3 separate regions of the Homo sapiens genome follow, and all the other regions are linked to region 3. The links come from fine-mapping of genetic effects on gene expression. A gene starts in region 3. Each other region holds a variant in brackets. All regions are shown on one strand. Distances are between the middles of the regions.

Region 1 (2,500 bases), 33 kb after region 3:
CGCACACCACCATGCCTGGTCAATTTTTGCATTTTTAGTATAGATGGGGTTTCACCATGTTGGCCTGGCTGAACTCCTGACCTCAAGTGATCTGCCTGCCTTGGCCTCCCAAAGTGCTGGGATTACAGGTGTGAGCCACCATGGCTGGCCTGTTGGGGTTTTTAAAAAGAGACTCTAGCTGGGTGCGGTGGCTCATGCCTGTAATCTCGGTGCTTTAAGAGGCTAAGGCAGGAGGATCACTTGAGGCCAGGAGTTTGAGACCAGCCTGGGCAACATAGCAAGACCCCATCTCTTAAAAAAAGAATTAGTCGGCATGGTAGCACGTGCCTGCAGTCCCAGCTACTTGGGCGGCTGGGGTGGCTCAGGCGGGAGGACTGCTTGAGTCCAGGAGCTGGAGATGATAGTGAGCTATGATAGTGCTACTGTGCTCCATTCTGGGTGACAAAATGAGGCCTTGTCTCTAAAAAACAAAAAACCAAAAGAATAAAAATAAAAAGGGATTCTAGTAGTATTTGATGACTCTGATTTTTCTTCCTGAAGCCAAGAAAAGACTGACTAACGCATTGAGTAACAGCAGTCTCTGGCCTTAGAAACATAGCAAGGGGTCTACTTTTACAGAAAAGATACTAATGAAGTACTTCACATTGGCTAGTTCAACTCTGGGGGTAGCCATCCTGAAATTAGCTACCTATGCTTTCCACAGCCACATCCTAACATCACAAGGAGTCCTAAGAACCACTTACCTATCTTCTCAGGATCAGTTATACCGACTGTCAAATCAAATTGATCCTCCTGTTCTTCTTCCTCTAGCTTTTTCAAGAAAAGACAAATCATGAGAGTTGATATGAAAAAAAAAGCTATCAATTTTACCCTGTAATAACCTTATACCAATCTAATAAAATCAAGATGTATCCTTCAGTGTTCAGCTTTTGTCCATTCCCAACAATCCCAATGTACCAACTCTCAAAATTTTAAATTAGGAGCCAGCTTACAAGTCTTTGTTACATGTATCCCCTTAAAATCTTATTTTGATGACAATGAATAACTGCCAGATTTAGAAAGACTTGCCTCTTGCAGGCTAGGAAGGGAGTGAGGAGAAACTATACTCCTGAATGTGGAAGCTTCGCACACTAAGTATCTTTAGTAACCACTGAAAGCCTTCGTGCTCTCTGGGCAATAGATACTCTGCTCAAGAAAGACTCCTGTATTGGATTCTGGCTGTCCATTAACCATAAAGATCTCCTTCAAGAGTAACAAATATTTTCTCAAGGTTCATACTCAACTACACTTCAGACTGGCCGTACACAGTCCT[C/A]AATATCTAAAAGCGATAAGACCAAGAGCACAGATCCTCACCTCCTCATAGGTTGGCTGGGGCTTCGAAGAATTTGTGGCTTCCTGAGGAGGAAGAGAAATGAGTGTTTTGGCTAGCACCTTCTTCTGATTATTTTGTGTGCTGTCCAAGGATAGCTCCACTGTGGCATCTAAAATGAAGTTGATATTTTAAAATGAAGGTCAGTAATGAGTCTTTGAAGGCTAAACTTGTATAGGCTAAGAACTTACAAGAACAATAGCAAGCACTCTCAATACATAGAGGCTCTTAGACTGAAAGTCATAAAATGTTTACAAGGAGAAAAGGGGAGGAAGGTAAGGGAAGTGTTCTTCTAGCACAGGCTTAGTAGAACAACCTCTCCTTCTTTCCAAATACAACCACTTGGCTACCCTCTCCTACCTAGAATTTATACAAGAACCAAGGATAAGCAAAAAGACAACACAGCCAAAATAAGTTTATCAATTTTATTTATTTTTTAGACAGAGTGTCACTCTGTCACCCAGGTTGGAGTGCAGTGGCACGATCTGGGCTCACTGCAACCTCCACCTCGCAGGTTCAAGTGATTCTCCTGCCTCAGCCTCCTGAATAGGTGGTACTACAGGTGCATACCACCACAGCCAGCTAATTTAGTCTGTCAATTTTAATCTTCGGAGTATTCCTTTAGAACATTATATGAGCCCTATTTATTCTTGTTATAATTGTTTGTAAAAGGCTGGGCGTGGCGGCTCATGCCTGTAATCCTAGCACTTTGGGAGGCCAAGGTGGGAGGACTGCCTGAGCTCAGGAGTTTAAAACCACCCTGGGCAACATGGTGAAACCCCGTCTCTACTAAAAATACAAAAAAACAGTAGCCAGGTGTGGTGGCCTGAGCCTGTAGTCCTAGCTACTGGGAGGTTGAGGCAGGAGAATTGTTTGAACTGGGGAGGCAGAGGTTGCAGTGAGCCGAGATCGCGCCACTGCACTTCAGCCTGGGCAACAGAGGGAGACTCTGTCTCCAAAAAAGAAAAAAAATTGCTTGTAAAAGAAGTTCAGATATTTGCTTTACACACCAATATGATAGAAGAGGCAGGCATACTGACAGGAAAAAAATGACGTCAAAGCAAGTGTCAGGAAAGCTATAAGCTAGAAAAAAATGGAGCCAAGACACAAGCACAGTAACATTTGGGAAAG
Region 2 (2,848 bases), 510 kb before region 3:
AAATGCTGAGACAAACTCAATCCCAAAGCAGCACTGCTTTGTTTCAGATAATAATTCAAAACCTCAAAACATTTGTGTAGTCAAGGCTGATCCAAGTATAATAGTAGAAAGAGAGAGAGAGATTTTTTTCTAGGCCCCTCATTTTTACTATTTCCATTAGTACATACTTTCTCTCAGGGATCTGGTACCTTCATGCTCAGCTCCTTCATGCTCAGACCAATTCCCTTCTTGAAACGCTTCCTTCACTTGGCTTCCAGAACACCATACTCTCCTGGTTTTCCTCCTATCTCTCTGGTCATTCCTCAGCATCTTTTGCTGGTACTTCATGTGTAGCTGATGACTCAAACTTCTATCCCTAGCCCCAACCTCTCCCCTAAACTCCAGATTCATGTATCTAATCACAAACTTGACATTTCCATTGGACGTCTAAATGGAGATCTCAAACTTAATATGTTCCAAACTGAGCTCCTGATACCCATCCTCTCCTTAACAACCCTCTCCTCCAAGAACAACAAAAACAACTTGCTCTGAATTCTCCCTATCTGAGGTAATGGCATGTGTACATCCTTCTAGGTGTTCAGGTCAAAACCCTTAGAGTTTTACTTGGTTCCTCTCCTACTATCCATGTCCCCACACCTGACCATCAGCAAATCTTTTTGGCTCAACCTTCAAAATATATCCAGATTTTGATCATTTCTCATTACCTCCACTTCTACTGCTCCAAGCACTCCTTAAATTATTGCAATAGCTTCCTAACTTGCTTCCATCTTTATCACTTTCTGACCTGTTCTCAACACAGAGACCAGAGAGATCCTGTTAAATAAAACCTCTCATATCCTATCATTTCTCTGTATAAAACCTTTTAGCTTTTGAACTCATACATACAGGTATAGGTGATACATACATCTGTATGTATCACCTATTCCCAAAAAAACACATAAAAATAGTTATTAGTTAGCCAAGCACGGTGGCTCATGCCTGTAATCTCAGCAATTTGGGAGGCCGAGGCAGGTGGATCATCTTAGGTCCGGAGTTCAAGACCAGCCTGGTCAACATGGTGAAACCCCATCTTTACTAAAAATACAAAAATTAGCCGGGCAGTAGTGGCGCGTGCCTGTAATCCCAGCTCCTGAGGAGGCTGAGGCAAGAGAATCGCGTGAGCCTGGGAGGCAGAGGTTGTGGTGATCCGAGATCGCGCCACTGCACTCCCGTCTGGGCAACAGAAAGAGACCCTGTCTCAAGAAAAAAAAAATTATTAGTTTTAGTAGAAATATCTCAATGTTTTAAAAATGCTTCATGGCCAAGCATGGTGGCTCATGCCTGTAATCTCAGCATTTTGGGAGGCCAAGGTGGGAGGATTGCTTGAGCATAGGAATTCGAAACTAGCCTGGGCAATGTAGTGAGACCCTGTCTCTAAAAAATTCTTTAAATTATCTGGGCTTGTTGGCATGTGCCTGTAGTGCCAACTACTATGGAGGCTGACATGGGGGGATCACTTGAGCCCGGGAGATCTAGGCTGTAATGAGTTGAGATGTTGCCCCTGCACTCCAGCCTAATTCACAGAGGAAAAAAAAA[AG/G]ATGGGGCCTAATTCTCATCCCCTGGAGTGTGAGCTGCCTTTAGCAACTTGCAGAAGTGATGGTGCATGACTTTTGAGACAAGGTGATAAAAGGTATTATTGGGGGTTCCTCCTTGCTTTCTCTCTGGGATTTCTTCCCTTAGGGATGACAGCAGCCATTTTGTGAGAACACTTAAGCAGCCCTATGGAGAAGTCCACGAGGCCAGCAACTGAAGCCCTCTGCCAATAGTCATGTAGTGAAGCAACTTGGAAGAGGATCCTCCAGCCCCAGATATGCTTTCAGATGATGGCAGCCCCAGTCAACAACTGACTACAACCTCATGAGAGACCCTGAGTCAGACCACCCAGTTAAGCTACTCCTGAATTCCTGAGCCACAGAAACTCTGTGAGATAATATTTATTGTTTTAGACAACTATGTTTTAGGTTAATTTGTTACATAACAGATAACCTGGAATAATGTCTACCCTAGGTAGACAAATAATTCATTCCTACCTTGAACGAATATTTATTGAGCATCTATTATTTGCCAAGCATTCTGTGAAGTATTGAAGTTACAAAAACAGTGAAGAAATGCTGAGGTCCACTCCTGGGTTGGCAGCAAATGTTTATTAAGAGCCAACTTTATGGAATGTGCTGGACTAAGTACTAGAGAATAAGGATAAATAAGGCCAGATGCTTGCCCTCAGCATAAGAGACAACAAAAGAGAAAGGGGAAGAGATGAAGTGTACCTGAATATTCCAGTAGCATTGAGTTTCCAAATGGAAACATCAGCATTTGCCTATATGCTGCTTTTAAATCTTATTTTAATCCCAATTTTCAATCCTGATTGATGTTGACAACTATACCCTAACTGGATACAAATACACCCTAACTAACCAGGGTAAAGTACAGATTAGCACACATACATGCTTTCATTCATTCTATTATTCCACAAATGAGCACCTACTCTGGGCCAGACACTGTTCTCAAGTACTGGGACATGGCAACACACAAAACTGACCAAGTCTCTGCTCTTACATTCAGATAAGAGGAGAAAGACAATAAATAAGGGAACATGTAAGCATATGTCAGATAGTGATACGCGGCCAGTCGTGGTGGCTCACACCTGTAATCCCAGCACTTTGGGAGGCCAAGGCGGGAGGACTGCTTGAGCCCAGGAGTTCGAGACCAGCCTGGCCAACATGGTGAAACCCTGTCTCTACAAAAAATACCAAAATTAGCCAGACATGGTGGCACACGCCTGTAGTCCCAGCTACTTGGGAGACTGAGG
Region 3 (2,848 bases):
TCATGGAGCTGGGACTACCTGTGTCCGTTACCTCTTTCAGTCCTTTCAACAAGCCAGAGGGGGGTGTTTGGACCTATATTAGACTCAGAAAATTGATGCTTGAGGTGGTGAATAACATCCCCAAGTTGTGGGTTCCCTCCCTGCCATGCCCCCACACCTCTCTGTCTGGGCCACACCCCTGGCACAGAAGGCCGGGGGGCAACCAACTGTGCTCTCGCATACCTGGATGTAAGCCTCCAAGCCCTGCCGGCGCTGTTCCAACCCTCTGGTCCTCCAGTTGGGCAGGCGTTTCGAGGGGAAGTCGGGCACTTTGTACAGCTTCTTGATCTACTGGAGGTTTACCGCGTGCGATCACAGCATCCCGACTGAGCCCTCAAGCCCTCTTCGCCCCAGCCAGAAGCCCTCCCGCGCCCCCGCCTTCGGGCTCTACTGGGACAGACCCTGGTGAGTGGTGGACCGGCCGAGGGCGAGGAAGGCCCCAACCCACCCACAGAGGCCCGGGGGCTGACCGGCTGCGCAGGGACTGAGGCAGTAATGGGGGTGGCGGAGGCTGGGGCTCGCCCGCCCGCCTCACAGGGCCTGGGCGGGGGCTGGACAGAGGCTGGGCCGGGGCCGGTGGGAGGTCGGCGCCGCCTCACCCGCTTGTGCAGCGCGTGGAACTCGCTGTAGCGCCTTGGCACCGTGTGTCTGCGCCCGCTGCACAGCACCTCCACTCGGAACACCTGGCGGCGCGGGCGGGCAGCGGGTCTGCGCGTGAGGCCCCGCGGGAGGACGCCGCAGCACCTGCGCCTGGCGACGTGCCCACCCTCCCGCTCTCAAAGGCACAAAGCGGCCTTGCGGCGCCGCGGCTGCCCGGGGACTCTCCGCTCCCGCACACCTGGGAGAACCGGCTGGCGGACCTGCCCCTCGGAGCCCTGGGGTCCCTCAAGAGCTCGAACCATGGTCCGCGAGGCTGGCAAATCCAAGCGGCCCCCAAACCCTCGACAAGGTTTCCCCCGACGGTCCAGCCCGCAGCGCTCGTTCACCCAGGCCCGGGCCCCGGGTCCCCACTGAGCGCAGCGCGGGGAAATCCTGCGGGTCCCGGCGCCCCTCCCCATCCAGGGGCCGCGCTCACCATGTGGCTTTTCTCCGGGCTCTGCCTGGGCCCCTCGGCCTCGGGCCCCACCGACGGGATGTGAACTTCCAGCATCCGCGCCCCGGCCCCAGCTGCTCCGCGCGCTCGGCTCGGAGCCCTAACTCTCCCGGAGCGGACTGAGGACCCCGGGGCGGCCGGCTCCGCCCCCTCGGTCCGCAGGCCCCACCCCAGGCCCCGCCCCCAGGCGACCCCGCCCCGGGCGTTCCCTTGCGCCGCGGGTCCTGAGCCTAGAAGATTAGGCGGGACCTGGACGCCGCCCCCGAAGTCTAGTGCGCCCACAGCGCGGGGCAGTGGAGTCAACCGTTTGTCAAACATTGACGGAGCACTCACTGATGCCAGGAACTGGCGAGCGAAAATGTCACCCAACCTGAGTTAAGCGCCTACCAAGGACGGCCTGTGGCTCCAGGCGCGGACGGAGGCGGGGCCCGGGCCTCAGCGCCGGTCCTGGGGCCAACCAGGGACCTGTCTTGGGTTCCTCAGTCCCTTCCCGAGCCTTTCCCTCCTTTCAGCCTGGTCCCTGAAATTGTGATCTGGATTCCCCGGCTGAGGCCACACCTGAGCAAGGCTTGGACCCAGTCCAGCTTTGATGCCCCTTTCCCCAGCATCCACAGGCCCCCCCATTCATTCATTGTTTTCATCCATCCATTCACTCATATCTTCCAACCCTAAGGGGCTCCAGGCTGTTTGTGGGGAAGAGGCAGTTTAGGGACCTAGACTCCGATTTGGACGTCAGACTGCCTGGATTTCAGGAGCTCCGTAGACCTTTGCTCATCTGCAAAATAGGGATAACGTGGCTCCTTCAGGCAAGTGTATAAAGTGAGATGATTTGGCCGGGCGCGGTGGCTCACGCCTGTAATCCCAGCACTTTGGGAGGCCGAGGTAGGCGGATCACCTGAGGTCAGGAGTTCGAGACCAGCCTGACCAACATGGTGAAACCCCGTACCTACTAAAAATACAAAAATCAACCAGGTGTGGTGGCACATGCCTGTAATCCCAGCTACTCAGGAGGCTGAGGCGGGAGAATCACTTGAACCTGAGAGGCGGAGGTTGCAGTGAGCCGAGATCAAACCATTGCACTCCAGACTGGGCAACAGCAAGACTCTGTCTTAAAAAAAAAAAAAAGTGAGATGATTCATGTTAGGCCCTTAACAGAAGCATTGAGCAGCAGCTTGACTGTGGGCTTCTCCTGGATGACTAGGATAAGTGGGCACAGGGCAGTGGATGGGAAGAGAGACTTTGGGGGGTGGCACCGGGTTGCTCTTGTCCACCCCTCCGGGCAGGTTCTTCCTGGATATGTGGCAGGATTTTGATCCAGAACTCTCTCAGGCCATGTGCTGGAAAGGACCTCTGCTCCCACCTCTCAGCCCTGCACCCTTCAGCTGTCGGAGAGCTGCTATCAGCAGCACCATGGCAGGTCCTCTACTCCACTGACTTCCCCCACAAAGGCCCCGTGACATGCAGAGAGGCGAGGCCCTGCCTTCCAAAGCTCATACGTAGTGGGAGGTCTTGGGGTGGGCAGGAGGAAGCAGAGTGCCTGTCTTCGGGGCTGGGGTTGAGGGGACTCACCCCTCCCCTGCTTCTGCAGAGACGCCTCTGAGCTGGAGCAAAAAACCTCCATCCCCAGCCCTGCCCCCAGAGAAGGGCTGAGATGACGACCCCAAAATGGGGCAAACAGGTCTCACCAATATCATGTCCCACATTCTCTTTTTCCAA

Direction of the effects. Positions count from the first base shown, and alleles are read on the strand shown. Sizes are in standard deviations (SD) of each study's normalised expression. Not every link is listed here.
For the expression in lung of the gene that starts at base 1,234 in region 3, C is the low allele of the variant in region 1 and A is the other (small effect, 0.37 SD a copy in GTEx).

Evidence for each region. PIP is the estimated chance that this variant, and not a neighbour inherited with it, causes the effect. A credible set is the group of variants that fine-mapping cannot tell apart.
Region 1: its variant is the best candidate, but not a certain one, in a credible set for the expression of SNX22 in lung (GTEx, PIP 0.64).
Region 2: its variant is the best candidate, but not a certain one, in a credible set for the expression of SNX22 in whole blood (TOPMed, PIP 0.58).

The regions. Positions count from the first base shown.
Region 1 is chr15:64,117,098-64,119,597 of GRCh38, reverse strand. It overlaps SNX1 (sorting nexin 1), which reads right to left. Exons shown (of 15, transcript NM_003099.5): 3 at 1,354-1,481; 4 at 744-810. Among named protein-coding and RNA genes, the nearest start is that of SNX1, 22 kb to the right of the region's middle. The variant C/A (reference allele first, on the strand shown) is at 1,313.
Region 2 is chr15:64,661,075-64,663,922 of GRCh38, reverse strand. The region is part of intron 3 of ZNF609 (zinc finger protein 609); the gene reads right to left. Among named protein-coding and RNA genes, the nearest start is that of OAZ2, 41 kb to the left of the region's middle. The variant AG/G (reference allele first, on the strand shown) is at 1,576.
Region 3 is chr15:64,150,117-64,152,964 of GRCh38, reverse strand. SNX22 (sorting nexin 22) reads right to left here and starts at 1,234. Exons shown (of 7, transcript NM_024798.3): 1 at 1,115-1,234; 2 at 639-722; 3 at 223-327. The coding sequence starts at 1,189. RefSeq lists silencers at 529-908, 1,109-1,548 and an enhancer at 2,466-2,575.